2 linked regions of the Homo sapiens genome follow. The protein of the gene in region 1 purifies or fractionates together with the protein of each later gene. This does not show direct contact. Each region holds a gene or a part of one and is shown on either strand. Other genes may lie near its edges.

Region 1 (3,500 bases):
TAATTTTTTAAAGTAAGATGTAAATATTAGAATTTTATTTTATTTGAGATTCAGTTATAAATAGATAATATTTATTAGGAGGCTAATGAAAACACCATTCCTAAGAAGCAATTTTAAAGTGTTTCTTCATTGGTGGCTAGAATGTAGTAGAGGTAGCCCTATTCTAAATTAACTTCGTTTATACAGTTTTGCTTTATGAACTTTGTATTTTTGTAACTTGAAGCCTTGAACTTAAGAAATCTTTTTATTTAAATAGATTTTTAAAGTTCCTCTAATGTCAAGTATACTCTAGTATCCTAACCCTGTTAGTTACTGAAAAGGTAAAAGTAAGAAGAACAGGCTGGGTGCAATGGTTCAGGACCATAATCCCAGCACTTTGGGAGGCTCGAGAGGAGCAGATCACCTGAGATGAGGAGTTCAAGACCAGCCTGGCCAACGTGGTGAAACTTCATCTCTACTGAAAATACAAATATTAGTCAGATGTGGTGGTGCATGCCTGTAATCCCAGCTACTAGGGAGGCTGAGACATGAGAATTTCTTGAACCCGGGAGGCAGAGGTTGGAGTGCACTGAGATGGCACCACTGCACTCCAGCCTGGATGACAGCAAGACTCCGTCTCAAAAAAAAAAAAGAACAATTCTAGGTTAAAAAAAACTCTACAGCCATGAACGAAGAACCAATTTTGACATTAATGGCAAATGGTGTATAAGGAACAGGTGCTCATAGTTACTTTCGAGAACAAAAAGGAATAAATGACATTTAATGTATTGCAAGGATAAGAATATTAGCCTCTTTACAAAACTGGTTGGATATGAAAAGGTGAGGAACCAGTTATGTGAAAGTATGTCATGCTCACTGGGAGTTATGAAATTGTATGATTTCTTATTTCTAAACTATATGTAATATGACATTAAAATTCATACCTCATGTTAAAATTTAGTACAGATTGTTATGAGAGACAGTATCCTTGAGGAAGATTTTAAATTCAGAATACTTTATGTTTAGGATTTTGTGTTTTATGCACCTCGTCTGAGAATCAATAAGCGGATTTTGGCCTTATGTATGGGAAACCATGAACTATACATGCGAAGAAGGAAGCCTGATACTATTGAAGTACAACAGATGAAGGCTCAGGCTAGGGAGGAGAAACATCAGAAGCAGTTGGAAAGGTATGGGGTTTATGACCTTTCACTTTTAATTGATAGGAGTAGGCTATCTAAAATTTAAGACTGCTCAGTTTTTTAAATGTACCTTAAATTTGTATTTATTAATATTTTCATTATATTAAAATTCAAAGACAGTATTATCACTCTGTCCTTTAAAACGAGTATGTATAATTTTCAAGTTAGAAATCTTTGACACATATCTCGAAGAAAATAGCTTTTTGTGACTCATTTCTTGCTTTTCACTGATAGACATTGTTTTAGATATAGTAGTTTGAAACTTTCAAAATTGTTTTGCTTGTGACTTATATTTCTTAATTTTTTCAGGGTAAGAATGTGCTGAATATTTAACTTTGAAACAATGTCAGTGACATTGTAGAACACAACTGAAACGTCACTGTGCCAAGTAGGGTAACATCAGTACTCCCTGCCAAAGACCCTAATCTTTTTAACTCTGTTTCTCTTAGACTTAAAAAAGAAACTGTTAAATATATTAAATTGATAATTTTTAAAATTGAATGGTAGTGAATAAAATTTATATCAACCCTGGAATCAGATTACTGGGTCCAGTGACATTAATTTCCAAATCTGGTTTTAGATTAATTTCAACTTTGTGCTTTACTTGAAAAAATTTAGAGACCAAACTAAAGTTAACCTTTATTGAATAAATCTTTATGGAACAACGTGATAGTCTAAGAAATAGAGTAAGTCCTTAAAAAAAATTTGAAGAGCCCTAAACATATGTATTTTAAATATTGGATATAAGGTACTTTGTATCTAGAAGGAAGCCATCTGCTAGATACCATTTTGCTACTATAGTTTTAGGTTTTATATTGAATGATTTTTTTTCTTATTCAACAACTGTTCTGTGTAAGAGATTTTATTGATTTTTACCTATTTTGTCATATTAACTCAAATTATCTTCCTTAGAGAAGTTAACCACATAACAAAACATTTTTTATATGGGTTTGAAGCTTGTCAGTAATTACTAATCCCATCATTAAAGATACTGAGTTGGTGAGCTGAGGATGGTGGCATGTGCCTGTAGTCTCAGCTACTTGGGAGGCTGAGGCAGGAGGATTGCTTGAGTACAGGAGTTTGAAGACAATCAGGGCAACAGGCAACATGCAGTGTAGTAAAACCCTTTCTCTTAAAAATAAAAATAAAAAAAAGAGTAATGAGTTGGATTGTTACTTTGATGGGCTATGTCCTTTTTTATTGTGCTCATGTGCTGTAGCATTACATTGTGGTTCTAATCTTAAATGCTTTTTAAAAATACTCTTTATTGGGCTTTACTTTCTATACAGTACATTCTTATACACATAGCCTTGCATTTCCCTCTGTCAAAGGGAAGACTTCTTTTAGTTTCCACTTAATTTTTTTAAATCGTCTTAAAGATTTCACTGTCTCTTAAAGGTTTTCTAGCATGAGATAAATGAGGAATTATTTTATATACAGTTCCTGTATCTCATACTCATCACTCTATAGTATGCCTAACTGTTCTGCTCATTCATAATGTTGATATATTATTTACATTCTCAACTTACTATATTTATCTATATATCCTTTATTTCATGGCTTATAGAGAAATACTGTATTGCTTCTAGTACAGGTAGTATGTTTACTTAGTATCATTTGGTAATGGTGCTATATTTTAGTTACTCTAAGGCTTAGATGGAAGTGGAAGACTTAAGTTTCTTTTTTGGCACAATAATCCGTAGTTCTCCTGGATAAATGTTAGAGCTCTTCATTAGTAAGCATTTATTGACTGCTTTATACTCAGTTGGAATTCAGTAACTTTTATTCAGTTTGAATGCCTAGGAGATATATTATTCTAGTCACCTAGGAATTGGCAGTCTTTCAGAAATGGCATGCTGAGTCATTTATTCCCTGCTTTACAGGTCAGAGAGAGAGAAATGGCAGCTGTATGTGTGGAAACAATTTTGATTAAGCCCATTGGCAAAGTAGCCAGCAGATATACCTGGGAGAATGCCCAGAGGTATGCTGCCTGTGCTGCTAGACTCTCTTGGGCAAGAACAGTAGTTGGGAAAGAGTAGCAAAGAGACCTCTTTCCCTACAATACTTTGGTATATTTGGCTATATTTACTCCCTATAATTTTTATAACCTAGGGGTTTTTTGGCAATGAAAATGACCTTATACACTATGAGTGGTTATTCCATGTAGTTTTTGAAGCTCTTAAATTATTGGCATCCAAATTGAATTATGACTGATAATTTTTGCACGTTTTTGTATGGCTAAAATTGTTTCCACATGTGAAAACTGAAAGCCCCAAGTTTACAGTTTAGAGTTACATACCTATGTACCAATTGTAGGTT
Region 2 (2,793 bases), on another chromosome or scaffold:
ATAAAAAGTGTTGAGATTGGTAGAAGGTAGTTTTTAAGTACATGTGCACTACCCTAAAAGACTTGTCTATTGTCAATAAAGTGTTAGTATTTGTGAAATTATTATTCCTGTTCAGAAATACTATTTCTTAAATCTCCTGGGAATTTGTGGCATAATAAAGCACATTCAAAGTTCTAATGTATTTATGAGCTCATTTTCAAAATAGTAAGTTTGTCATCTTTAAAATGAACATGACTTGCCTCCTTGATTTCTGAAATGAATTAATTGAAGATTGCTATAGTAATCTTTATTTCATCTTTCTAGAGTTGTTGACAATTTTATTATACAACAGTTACCATTAGAGAAGGAGGGAAGGGCTTTTGGGTGTGTATTTATAGGTACTAAGGGATTTACTAAATATAGTAGATTAGCACTGTCACACTTGTTCAAGTAGTTTCAAACATAGAAAATTAAGTATCAGGTATGTGGAGCAATGTAGTTTTTTTTTTTCTTCAGTTTAAAAAATTTTTAATTGTGGTAGAAGCAATGTATTCTTAAGGTGAAAAACCTACCTCGGTTACATGTGGTTTGTGTTTTTTGGATTAATCTGGATTTTATAATTAGAAATAAAAATGTAAGATTTTGAATCCACTTAATTTCTTGAAAATAGTACAAGTCAGTGTAATAGAGAAGCATTCATATATTCAACACTGTAAGACAAAACAGCAGAGACCTTGGATTTGATAATTGATCTGATATCCTGGACAGTATTCATATGTACAGTGATAGGTATCTTTCTTTGGAGTTTTTTTTTTGTGCATATGTGTATAGTTTTATGGGTTCTGAGTTGGTGACCAGTAAGTTGCATGTAGTGCTGGCACTTACTTAATAACTATTCATGATATTGTTAATAACTTGTTATAGGATTGTATTCCCAATTACAGTCTCTAAGATTGTAATTGATATTATCTGAGAGGTAGTGTGACAACTTTCTTTTGTTGTTACATTAAGCCGAAAACATAATACTAATAGACAACTAACAGTTTGCTTATCAGGCACATCAACTAAGGCACCTCCCCCCATGCTAAGTTTCTCCTGGATATATGGAAGTTGATTGTTTCCCAGTTTAAAAACTTGAACTAATATCTCCTAAGAAAATCTGAGTCCATATTGTTTTTATTTTACTTAGCTAGAATCTCATAGCATGTTAAAGTCATATCCTTATCCCCACTAAAAATAACTATGTCTATGTGAGAGGAATATAGTATGTGGGAGCTGTATTAAATACTATTACAGGTGTTACAGAATCTTTAAATAAATGGACATGGACCAACTTTCCATCTAGTAGTGTACGATCTATATAGTGCATGTCAGTAGCACAAAATGCAGTCTTAGCATTAGCCTGTCTAATCTGAATAGTTTACTCAAAAGTACTTCTTTGTGTTAAGTATTCAGCCACTGTTTTTAGATCTAGTTAATAGGTTCTATTTAATTTGCTACAACATTTACTGAATGGTGGAGTGAAAAAACTGATGCATACTGGGAAATATCTACCATTTTTTAAAGATAATGTTAATTAGGAAAAGAACACTTTTAAGGAATTTATAGCAGTGATGAAATGAATTCAGTTATATCAGATACACCAAACTGTTGATGGTATTTAAATGTGACTTCAAGTTAGTATTTCTGTATATATTATTGATTACTGGTTTGTTTTTAGATATGTAAGTCTGTTCTAATCTACAGTTCACATATCGACAGTTACTCTGGTAATAATAGAATGTTAGTGATGATCACTTGGTGGATGTTGATTAAGTGCCTGTGTTTTGTTTCCTCCTCTGGATACCAAATAGGTGTATGCTACTTTTTTGGTGAACTTATTTCTTGGAAGATTTGGCTATGCTATTCAGGGTTTTTATTCTTATGTTTTTCTTCTAAATTTAAGTAGCATCCTGCTGCTACCATATTAAAGCTAAAATTTAACTTTTGCTGAAGAATCAGCTAATTCAGGTAATCCAAATATTTGTGGAAAAACATCTGGATAATTTATTGAACACATTAGTATTGTGTTAGACAGCTTTGATCATTCCCATTTCATAGGTTTTTATTGTGGAATAGTCAACTTAATATAGATTCACTTTCAATTTGCATGTATAAAGTAATACTCAATAAAATTTTTTTCATTTATTTTTCAACAGTGGTTATTTTTTTTCTTCCTGTACTATCAGTAAAATCCTGACTATGAGTTTTACTTTTGAAGCTAAAGGATAATGCTGGTAATCTAATTATGTACCTCTTACAGAAACCATATGCAGCACTTTAAAAATCTTTATTTGGTATATTATTTTAGGTGGACAATGATTTAAGACTCAAAGCCATCATATTAAGGTCTAAATACATTAGTGGTGGGGTTTCTCGAATAAATGAGGAAGTGCACAAAAGTTCAGCCTGACTGAAAATTTTAATTGTGTTTTAAAACTACATGAATAATTTCTTGATTCAAAATCAGAACTCTTATAAACTAAATCTGATGGTGTCCAAAGAATTTCAGGTCCTTCAAAGTTTGTAAAAGATAAGTAGGGGCCTAGGAATATAAAAATTTAGACTTTTTTAGTAAATGGTTTACATAACCTTTTGTCTTAATTTGTCATTCTTCATACACAGGCACAAGCTAATCAGTCTTCTCTACTTCTAGAACTCTAAATCTTCTCAGTAATGTCATACAAGTCTAACAAGAGGAAAAGCATCCTTAAGTCAGTCTATTTAGATAAACTCTTCAAGTCCCTATATAAGGACGTATTCCACTAGCAAGCC

The links. The genes of interacting proteins can lie anywhere in the genome.
Region 2: the proteins of RDX (region 1) and PAWR fractionate together in Homo sapiens (co-fractionation; one large-scale study listed by BioGRID). This does not show direct contact.

Annotation. Positions count from the first base shown.
Region 1 is NC_000011.10:110,251,615-110,255,114, reverse strand, and holds part of RDX (radixin), read left to right. Parts: intron 1-1,005; coding exon 1,006-1,169; intron 1,170-3,500. UniProt on the Homo sapiens protein: Probably plays a crucial role in the binding of the barbed end of actin filaments to the plasma membrane.
Region 2 is NC_000012.12:79,587,172-79,589,964, reverse strand, and holds part of PAWR (PRKC apoptosis WT1 regulator protein), read left to right. Parts: 3' UTR 1-2,793. UniProt on the Homo sapiens protein: Pro-apoptotic protein capable of selectively inducing apoptosis in cancer cells, sensitizing the cells to diverse apoptotic stimuli and causing regression of tumors in animal models.